3 linked regions of the Homo sapiens genome follow. The protein of the gene in region 1 purifies or fractionates together with the protein of each later gene. This does not show direct contact. Each region holds a gene or a part of one and is shown in the gene's direction. Other genes may lie near its edges.

Region 1 (3,653 bases):
TCACTGTGATATCCAGTTGAAAATCATGCTTCTTAATTATTACCTGAACTTGTATTAGTTAATTGATGACTAGAAATAGGAAAGTTCATTAAACTATTCATTTGCTCGGGGACTTAGCAGTAAGAAAATATTTGTATGTGTTCATTCTCCTTTTTGTCTGAATAGCTTTTGAATGTAGAAGTAATATTTCTGATGATGATACGCATTTCTGTTGTATTTTGCTATTTAGACCCTTTATAAAACACAAGTTAGGGAGCTTAAAGAAGAATGTGAAGAAAAGACCAAACTTGGTAAAGAATTGCAGCAGAAGAAACAGGAATTACAGGATGAACGGTAAGTATGAGACCCTTGTCTCTTTTTGTTCATAGCTGTATACTTTGCTCCTAGAACAATGCCTGGTAATCACCAAATAAAAAATTATTGATGAAGTGAATTAGACAAAAACTTTCACTTCATAGTGAAAACTGAACCATTAAAATGATATATTGCTAAAATGTAGGGACTCTTTGGCTGCCCAACTGGAGATCACCTTGACCAAAGCAGATTCTGAGCAACTGGCTCGTTCAATTGCTGAAGAACAATATTCTGATTTGGAAAAAGAGAAGATCATGAAAGAGCTGGAGATCAAAGAGATGATGGCTAGACACAAACAGGAACTTACGGAAAAAGATGCTACAATTGCTTCTGTAAGTCAAATTCTTGGTGCTTTTTTGGATTATAGTTAAATTGCTATATCTTAAACCTTCTTTAGACATACTAAGTATCACAGATCTAAATGAAAAATTATATATGCTGACTACAAGATTTTTAATCTAGTTAACTGCCACCTTCTCAATGTTGTCAGAGGAGCTTACTAAAAGTGACTTCACCTGTTAATGAATTCAAAGTTAAAGGTCTAAAGTGAAAGGGTCATTTTTTTTTTTCTTTTTAAACAGAACTTAGTTCAGAAGAATCTTGAAACTACCAGGAAAACAGTTCCGTGCAGGTTGAAAAAATTGCAATAAAAATTTCAGAGAGAGGTCAAATATCAAGTAGTTAGGTTTACCCTATCAATTAACTAGACCTATTGAAATGCTGCGGTAATTAAAAAGTCTGGTATTAGAACAGGGATATTCAATCCTGTTCAGTGGAAATGAAAAGGGAGGCCAGAAAGATTTCTGCACATACAGGAACTTGGTATATATGATGGGAGTGGCAGTACACAAATCACTGGGAAAGGACACATTTCATAAATGGTTTCAGAATAACTGTGTTTTTATATGGAAAGGAATAAAATTAAATCCCCACTACATCACACACAAAAGTAAATTCTAGCTATCTTAAGGACTATGAAAAATAAAAATTTTAAGCTATCAGAACAGAATCTAAAAGTTGCATATGACAGAAGACAGCATAAACAAATGACAGAAGGGAGATATTTGTAATATATTTATTAAACAAGGGATTTGTATCTAGAGTATATGTAGAATGTCTGCAATTCAGTAAGATAAGATTAAAGAATTTGGAAGAAAACTTAGCTGAAAGAGAAAACCTAAATATATAAGCATGTACTTAACCTCACTATTGTTCAGGAAAAGCCTAGGTAAAACAACTTTGAAATACCATTTCATACCCATCACTTTGGCAGAAATTCAGTAGCTGACAATTTCAAGTGTCTGAAGAATGTCTAGAAAATGGCATTCTTATTCACTATGGGTAGTATAAATTTAGTATGGCATAGTACAGTAAGTAGTATGACAGTTTCCAGTAAATTTTAGGCATTCACATAATGCAGTCAGAAGAAAGTCCACATTAAGATAAATACACTATAGAAATTTAGGCACAATGCTTATAGCAGCATAAATATTTAGCAAAAACTCAAATGTCCATGAATGAATGAATGCATGCATTAAATGTAATAGAAGATGGAACTATTACATCAGATCTTCATTTGTATCAGCAATTTAATGCCTTAATATGCTATTGAGTGAAAACAATTACAGAAAGATAAATTCAGTAAGATAGAAAATCGCAGCCTGGCATGGTGGCTCATGCCTGTAATTGCAGCACTTTTGGAGTTGAAGGTGGGAGTATTGCTTGAGCTCCAGGAGTTTGAGACCAGCCTAGGCAACATAGTGAGACCCTGTTTCTACCAAAAAAAAAAAAAAATTTTTTTTATCCAGGTGTGGTGGTTCATGCCTATAGTCCCAGCTAGCTACTCATGGGGGCTGAGGTGGGAGGATCCTTAGAGCCTTGGAGGCTGAGGCTACAGTGAGTGGTGATCGCACGCCATTGCACTCCAGCCTGGGCAACAGAGCTTGAGACCTTGTCTCCAAAAAGAGAGAAAAAAAAAAAAGAAAATCACATAAAGCCACACTGTGTATTGTTTCATGTGTATATAATGAAATACAGTCATGGGTGGAAAGGCAAAACACGTAATTTACAGTAAAACTTCCTTCAGGCCAGGTGTGTTGGCTTATGCCTGTAAGTAATCCCAGCACTTTGAGAGGCCTAGGCGGGCGATCACTCGAGGCCAGGAGTTTGAGACCAGCCTGACCAACATAGTGAAACCCCATCTCTACTAAAACTATAAAAATTAGCCAGGTGTGGTGGCGCATGCCTGTAATCCCAGCTACTAAGGAGGCTGAGGCAGGAGAATCACTTGAACCCAGGAGGCGGAGGTTGCAGTGAGCTGAGATTGCGCCACTGCACTCCTGGTTGACAGAGCAAGACTCACCTGGGTGACAGAGCAAGACTCTGTCTCAAAAAAAAAAAAAAAAGAAAAATAAGAGGTTTAACAATATTCTAGGATGTTTCTCATTTGAATCATTTTATAACATAAATTGTGTAAATTGGGATGTGATTATTTTTTCCTCTTTCATTTCTTAGCTTGAGGAAACTAATAGGACACTAACTAGTGATGTTGCCAATCTTGCAAATGAGAAAGAAGAATTAAATAACAAATTGAAAGATGTTCAAGAGCGTATGTATTAACAAAAAATGTTTATTTTTAATATACCTAATGTTTATCAGCTGCTGTAATTACCAATGTAATTTTAACTTTTTTCCATGTTTCAGAACTGTCAAGATTGAAAGATGAAGAAATAAGCGCAGCAGCTATTAAAGCACAGTTTGAGAAGCAGCTATTAACAGAAAGAACACTCAAAACTCAAGTATGTATAATAGAATCTAAATATGATTTTGAATTTTGTCTCAGTTTATCTCTTTTACATTTTACTTCTAGCATTACAAATTGGTAGCAGTAGTCATCGAATGTACCAATATTTGTGAAGTCACAATTACCTGATTTTTGCCAGGTTGAGAGAAGTTAGATTTGATTAATATTGTTAAATTCTATAGCAACTAAAATTTTTCTTAATATTTCCTTTTGGAATCACATTCTCTTTCAATTTATTGTTGTAATTTAATGTGTTTTTCTACTTTTAAGAACTGTTGGGATTGACCATTTGCTGACAACCTGAAAAGTGTCAGTTAGTTCACTCTCTGCCAACTCCTACAGTTGCATATGTACTGCATGAACAGGTGGGGTACTAGATACTCTTCACTGTTGTTGCACATAGAATATTTTATTAATTTGATGTCACTGCAAAATGTTCTTCCTCCAGAATAAAAGAAGAAAGGTCTGCCTATTAAAGTCTCTCTAGAACTAAAAA
Region 2 (3,653 bases), on another chromosome or scaffold:
GTTGAAATAGTATTTTTACCCCCGTTTGCTGACATAGTGAATAACAACTTAGTCCTGCCTATTTTAGTGCTGGTAGAAAATAAAAAAGAAAGCAATGACTTAGAACAAGATGTTTCATGAAAATGTTGGGCAAGCAGCAGCTTTATGAGATTTAAATGAAAGAAAAAGCTTGAAGAGCTGTGCTTGTTGGTAAATTAAGTTTATAAAATTAAGGACGGATTATAATCTTGACATCTTTGCAGTCTTACCTTTATTATATACCAACTACTCCTGTTTAAAATTCACTTCTTGCTCCCTGTTGATTTTAAAACCCTCTAAGCTTCAGCATGAGAGTAAATTCTAAGCTGGCATGTGAACTGGTCTGGGTCCCAGTCACCGACAGCCAGGCTAACCCCCCTCCCACCACCACCAAATGTCAAGCCAGGGCCCTGACTCAAGCTACCAGGTGCTGACTTTACTTGCTCGAGTTAAAATGTTGCTTCCTAAAAACCGGCATGTTTAACTGAGCTATTAATACAATAAATCTTGCCTCTAAAGTCTTTCCTTTACTCCTTTTAGCTCAGGTATGTTTTAGCATAGCTTTCAGGAACATTCTCTTCAAAAACTGCACCTTGCTGGCAGAGTTGCTACAGAATGTGGATTTTGAAAAGAATATTTGTAACGTACAAAGTGTCCAGTAGCCCCATTAGCAAGAAGGTTCATGAAGAAACTGACTGGGAAGTTGATCTGCTTTTATTCTCAGGTTGATTGTACACAGCACTATGAACTCTGCTCCGGAAACCAGGTTCGTGGCTATCCCACTCTTCTCTGGTTCCGAGATGGGAAAAAGGTACGTCTGCACTTCTTAGTACTGAGAATTCTTCATCTCTTAACCCCATCAGGCTGAGCTACTGAGTGGTTTAATGGGCACAGTGAATTGCCAATCTTGATTGTTAGGGCACTGGTTTGGAGAAATGTGTATAATGAAACAAACGTCTTTCTCTTAATTGATAAGATTTGGGTTGTGGAGATGAACCTTGAAACATTTCAGTGGCCCAGGTTATCACTAGAATAACCCACATCTTACAGTCACAGGGTAACTGTGCTCTGGTTGTAAACACAAACCTTCAGGCCTTTGAACAGAGCTAAGGCTTGCACTTGGTCCGGTTCTGCCTGCCTCCCTCCCTCCTTCCCTGGCCGATGGTCAGCAGCTCAGAGTTCCCCATCAGCACAACGGCTTGCTGGCAGGCCTCTGCCCCAGACTTCTGTGATGTGTAACCCCGTGGAGGGAAGAGGGGCCTGTACAGTTCTCTCACCAAAGCCGAGGCATTCAGTTATCCTCTCTACATTCCCGTCTAAATATGAACATGCAGACTTTGCACCACCGCTAAGACATCTGGGAGCTCTGACCCGGGCAAGCAGGGGTTGCAGGAAGGCTTAAGTGATTCAGAACACCTCAGTGGACTCACTCAGCCGCGTGCCCGTGTCTTGGCCAGGTGGATCAGTACAAGGGAAAGCGGGATTTGGAGTCACTGAGGGAGTACGTGGAGTCGCAGCTGCAGCGCACAGAGACTGGAGCGACGGAGACCGTCACGCCCTCAGAGGCCCCGGTGCTGGCAGCTGAGCCCGAGGCTGACAAGGTGGGTGCCTGCTGGAGTCGGGATCCCCATAAGTGGCCCGTGGCCCCCGGCCCCCCACCTCCCCACCCTCAGAGGCCTCCTCAAATGCTTTGGACAAAATGACAGTTTGGGGACACAGTCATCTGATGGTTGGCTCCAGTTGCGTTTTCAACACGTATTTTTCATCGACTTTCACATGCTTTCAGGGGCGAATGCAAACAAAAGCTTTCCTTTTGAAAACATGAAATGGATGTGAGACAAATCCCAAGACAATATTTGGTGTCAAAAATCTCTAGAGAATCCTTCCTTTCCGCTTCATTCATTTTAAAGAATGACTCTGCTGGGCATGTTTCTGCTATGAAATCTCGACTGCTGGCCCCGGGGCCCTGATTCTATTCCTGACCTTGCTCCGGGCATTTTCCTTTACCCGTTGTAAAGGCCCCTAGAAGACCTGTAGCCAAGAGGGCATCCGCAGCGATCAGGCCAGTGACTGTAGCTGTAACCTGCCTAGGCAGTCCTGATGCACTGAGGGGCTTCCTTCCTTCACTCAGGTAGCAGGAGGTTTCAGATTCATTTGTTCTGCTTTATGAAGCCCTTGTTATGTCACAGGCACTGTTCTAGGCCACCAGGGAATAAAAATAAGACCGGTTTCCTGCCTCTGAAGCATACAGGTCTCTGAGGCAAATGGTGAGAAGACACACAAGCCAATGGCAGGGGGCTGGGGCAGAAATGTGTGCAGGGCTTGGCTGCTAGAGAGAAGTGGGGGCAAATGGGCAAGAAGTGTCCCTAAGGAGCTGATTGACGGGATCTGTGCTGGACAGATAGGCTGGGCAGGGCTGCCACTGAGGGGCTGCACCAGGAGAGGCACAACCCGAGAATCAGCCGGCATTTCTGCAGGGCCAGAGCTGGGGCTGGGGGAACACAGTGGGAGACAGGTCAGGGTGTGGTGTAGGATCCCTGAGAGTGAGAGAGGAGCTGGAGTTGAGAGTCTGTGGGCAGCTGGCCAAGGATTAGGAACTGTATCCCATATTGACAGGGAGCCCATGGAGGCTCTGTGCAGATTGGAGTTGTAGGAAAATGACCGGCATGCACGTGTGCTGGAGGTGGGAAGCTGCTCTATTAGGCCTTTAAAGATGATGCGTTCCCTCATGCTGCAGCCGTGACTGTGCGATGGCGAGGAGGAGAAAGCCAGCATAAGGAGTCCAGCCGCTGTGCAGCGCGGAGAGGGAGGGAGGGTCCGAGGCGAGTCTGATTCCCGCATATCTGGTGGAGGATGGTACCCAGCACAGGGGCGGGGCCAGAGCTCGAGGAAAGGGATGAGCTTGGTTTTCAAGGTGTTGATCTTCAAGGCTTTCGGCTGTGTAGGTGGCAGTGTCCAGTGGCAGTTCCAACCATGAGCCTGGGGCTGCGGCAGGAGGTCTGCACTGGACGAGAGTGCCCGTGTCATCCTCTTCAGGTAGAAGTCATGCCTGAAGGCCAGGAGTTTGGATTTGGAAAAACCAGTGGGGCCACCAACCCCTCCTCCCTGGTGGGGCCACACCAGGCCTCCTCACCCCTACAACCCTGTCCCTAGTTGGGCTCTTGTAGGTCGGGGATGGCCTGAGTGTTGTTTAAAAGTTGACGTTTTGGTTGAAGAAGTAAACAGCTGATTTTGTAGTTGTCAGGACCACTTATGTTAGAGGAGTGTATGTGTCATGGTGGTTACAAAGGTCATCCCAAATTGAGTATAATTATATACCACGGATGTTTTCATCGCAGCACCATTTCTATTTATAATGCAGTTTTCCACCATGAAGTGGGTCTTTTCAGTGCGTGTGGCGTCATGTTTCTGGACATAAAGATGGTAGTGTTCCACAGTGGCCCCCTTGGCCTCCGTCACTGACATGTTACTCGATGCCAGACTCAAATGGAGCAGCCCTGGTACACTTAGCCACGTGATAAATCATCCCATTCCTGCTCTCAGGAGAGAATCGCAGATCCATTTTTGGAGAAACACATAGACGTCATTCTGTAAAGAACTGTCAAGGGAGAATGGCTTTAAAGCAGACTACCATG
Region 3 (3,653 bases), on another chromosome or scaffold:
ATATCGTGGCAATTTTAAACACCTTTATTGATGTATAAGTGACACAATAAACTGTACACGTTCATACTATGTATACATTTTTAGACTTTTTTTGAACCATATGAATATATTACCTATTTAAAAATCTAAAGAAAGTATTTCAACTTTAGCAGCTGGCTAAATAAATAGATAAATAGCAAAGCTGGTCTGCTCTGGATTTTGTTCTATGGACTTGAGCCTTTGTGGTTCATTGTAAAAATTTTTATTCCCCTTGACTTATAGAAATTCTGGGTAAGATTAGCTTGGTGATGTTGCAAGCAAAATATTCTCTTGTCATCTTTCAAATCTTACCTAATGCAAAGGATTTTGAAAACAAAACAGTAACTACAGAGAAATTTTTAAAATTAGACTCATAGCCAGTGATGGAGATTTAACCAAAATTCTCTAACTGTAAATGAAAGAGATTAAGGCCATTGTTACTTTACCCTCCATGATCCCTTGGCAGGGCTCTGCCTCTCACCTCACCCATTTAGCACTACAGAGAATTAGACCTTGGGCATGAAGTCCTACCAGGAGGACTCCAGCTGGCCTCAGTACAGCACTGAAAGAATGGAACTTCACCCTCACTTCACTTTTACCCCTATGCTTCACTTACATCCTCAGCTTAGAGTCACTTTGACCAGAGCCTTTCTTGGTCAGGGAAAGGGTCTTTTTATATCTGTAACTAAGCTCTGATTCTCTGGGCAAGAATGACATTCTCTGCTCTGTAGAACTGTTTGTTGTAACCTGTCTTTGGGTTTATGAGAATTGGCTGAGGGGAAGCAAAGATGAGAACTTTCTAATTCAACTTTTGCATGTTTGCTGACTTCTCCCTCCTTTTGTCCCTTGATCTGCTAACCCAGATAACTGCTTTGTCCCATCCGGATTTTATCTCTTTGAGAGGAGCCAATCAGACTCAGAGACCCAGTGCCATTGTTGGAATCAACTTGCTCTTGTTCTCGGATTTCCACTTTCTGTGCCACCTGGGTACCCTCATGGACAATTGGCATCATTCTTTCCCAGTCCAGTTCCATTATGGGAACAAGTACTTAGGGAAAACAGGGCAACCCAGTAGTAGAAGCCCTGGTTTGGGAATCAGACAATCTGAATACAGGACCTTACATTGCCGTGAACTCTGTCACTGAGCAGGCAGAACCTGATTGAGTGGTATGGCTTTGGTAGGCGCTTTGCAGAAGTTTATTAGTGGATTGACTAGGACAAATTCTCTCTTATAGTTCCTTCAGTTGAAAATAGAGATGACTTTTGTACTTCATTACCATAAAGCTATGCTAAAAATAATACATTAATGAAAGTTGTTTCTTGGAAAATAAGAAATGGAAATATAATGTATTAAATGGAGCTGGTTTGTAAAATATGGTGTGGTTGAGACAGTATCTCAGGTGCCTTCTAACTCCCTGTGTGTCAGCCTCTGTGAGAAAGGGCACAGTTTGGTTGCAGCTGTACTATAGGAGGATGGAATTACATCTGTTTTTATCTGTGAGTGATGTCTTTCAGATGCCAGATGCAAGCCAGCTTTGTTTGCCATTGGCATCTGTAGGGTATTTTTCCTCCTGTCTATGATGCATAGTTGCTTTTTTATTTACCAGCTTTCAATAAATTAGATAATTTTGTTCTCAGACCAAATTTGAAGAGATGAGGCCACTATAATGTCTCCATTTTGTAGGTGAAGAAACTGTGGTTTAGAGAGGTTATGTGATTTGTCCAAGGTTGCATAAGTAAATGGCAAAGCTACATCTCTTTATATCATGCTCCACCTTCTGTCTCCATGCTTTAGCTTCTAATTTGTAAGTACAAAATTAGGAAACATGATCTAAAGGTTTTTAAAGGCTCTGACATCCTGACCTGAAATCAGCTAATCAAATATTTATTTAGAATCTTAAACTGTTTTTGGAACAAGGAAGAATTTACCTACTATAATAATATATTGAGTATGTTATGTCCAAAGTACTGTAGAAGTAAGAAATATAATAAACTTTTGCAATCAAATATTTACCCTCTAGGCTGGGTGCGGTGGCTCATACCTGTAGTCCCAGCACTTTGGGAGGCTGAGACAGGTGGATTGCTTGAGCCCAGGAGTTTGAGACCAGCCTGGGCAACATGGCGAAACCCTGTCTCTACAAAAAGTACAAAAATTAGCTGGGTGTGGTGGTGCGCGCCTGTAGTCCCAGCAACTTGGGAGGCTGAGGCAGGAGAATCACTTGAGCCTGAGAGGCAGGGGTTGCAGTGAGCTGAGATTGTGCTACTGCACTGCAGCCTGGGTGACAGAGCAAGACCCTGTCTCAAAAAAAAAAAAAATTTACCCTCTAGAAGTTCAGTGCCAGAAGTAGACATGTAGTTTTATGTAGTAGAGGATTTCATATAAGCAGAGATGGACCAGGGGAGATAGGAATCCGAGAGTATTGAAGGTCAAGGTGAAGTCCAAGCAATAAGCGCAAAACTTCAACTAGTGTTAATTAGAAAGTGATTGATTAAAGGAGTTTGGCAAGAAAGGGAAGCACTGGGTTCAGCTTTAAGGGCTCTCTATGTCTGGGTTGCCAACTTAGAGTTCCAGGTTAAGGGGTGAGATTTTTTTAAGACTAGGAGTTAGTGATTCTCTGAAGAATGAAGCAGGAAAAAGTGAAGGATAAGCTTACAGGGCCTTAAGCAACTTGGTGGTAGGGAGATGGCCTCCGGAAGGAGACATGACAGGGCCATGGCTGTGAGCTTCAGCACTTCACAGGCCTAGCTCAGCAGCTGCTGTGACAAACATATCAGTTGTTTTTGTCCTTCCTCTTCCTTAAAAGATAGCTGAAATTTATAGAAACTCCAGTTTTCCTGCATCTTCTCTCCTCCGTGAGGGCAATTTTAAAAGGCTGCTGTTTGCGCCCTGGTACTCGCGTGAGCTCACATGTGCACACACATACACACATATACACCTACCCATTCATCGCAGGAATTCTCAAGCCATTTCAGAAAATATTTTTTTTTTTGTCCTGGTAACACAGGATTGCTAACTTTGTCCTCAGCTGCCATTCTTTGTGGGATTTCAATAAATAAGCAAATAAAATATAGGAAAACTATTTGGAATAATAATACTTCAAGCAGCTTTTTGTAGCCCTTTTAATTCAATACTACAGGTCATTTAGTTCTGAGCCCTAGGTGATTATAATTCATGATATGTCTTGTTTTGTTTTCTTTGAGTTTTTACATTTTGAGGTAAAATGGAATTATCACTAGCACATTTTTCTGAAGCCATACCAATTTGTCCTTTTTATTTGTTTGTTCAAATGAAGCAGTGCATCAAGTATGGAATTAGATTAATGGAGTAAATATTATGAATCATACACTCTCTCTAATCTGACACTCTTTCTTCTTTTTTTGACCTCACGTTTTGTTTTCTGTCTTTCTCTCTCCGCGTAGGCTTTCAGTCCAGTGTAAAGCTGTTGGAGCGCGGGAGCAAAGGTAAAGAATGATGTAATGCGCTGGCTGCTCCAAAGCATCTTTTGTTGTGGAATGGTTATTCCAGTCATCTCTTTATGAATCAAATGTGAGGGGCTGCTTTGTGGACGGAGTCCTTTGCAAGAGCACATCAACGGGAAAGAGAAAGAGACATTCACTTGGAGGGCTCTTGCTGA

What was found.
Region 2: the proteins of ROCK2 (region 1) and TXNDC5 fractionate together in Homo sapiens (co-fractionation; one large-scale study listed by BioGRID). This does not show direct contact.
Region 3: the proteins of ROCK2 (region 1) and DUSP16 purify together in Homo sapiens (affinity purification with mass spectrometry; one large-scale study listed by BioGRID and IntAct). This does not show direct contact.

The regions. Positions count from the first base shown.
Region 1 is NC_000002.12:11,197,990-11,201,642, reverse strand, and holds part of ROCK2 (rho-associated protein kinase 2), read left to right. Parts: intron 1-229; coding exon 230-333; intron 334-499; coding exon 500-686; intron 687-2,868; coding exon 2,869-2,962; intron 2,963-3,057; coding exon 3,058-3,152; intron 3,153-3,653. UniProt on the Homo sapiens protein: Protein kinase which is a key regulator of actin cytoskeleton and cell polarity.
Region 2 is NC_000006.12:7,886,671-7,890,323, reverse strand, and holds part of TXNDC5 (thioredoxin domain-containing protein 5 isoform 1 precursor), read left to right. Parts: intron 1-742; coding exon 743-829; intron 830-1,475; coding exon 1,476-1,619; intron 1,620-3,653. UniProt on the Homo sapiens protein: Protein disulfide isomerase of the endoplasmic reticulum lumen involved in the formation of disulfide bonds in proteins. Can reduce insulin disulfide bonds.
Region 3 is NC_000012.12:12,521,249-12,524,901, reverse strand, and holds part of DUSP16 (dual specificity protein phosphatase 16), read left to right. Parts: intron 1-3,438; 5' UTR 3,439-3,653. UniProt on the Homo sapiens protein: Dual specificity protein phosphatase involved in the inactivation of MAP kinases. Dephosphorylates MAPK10 bound to ARRB2.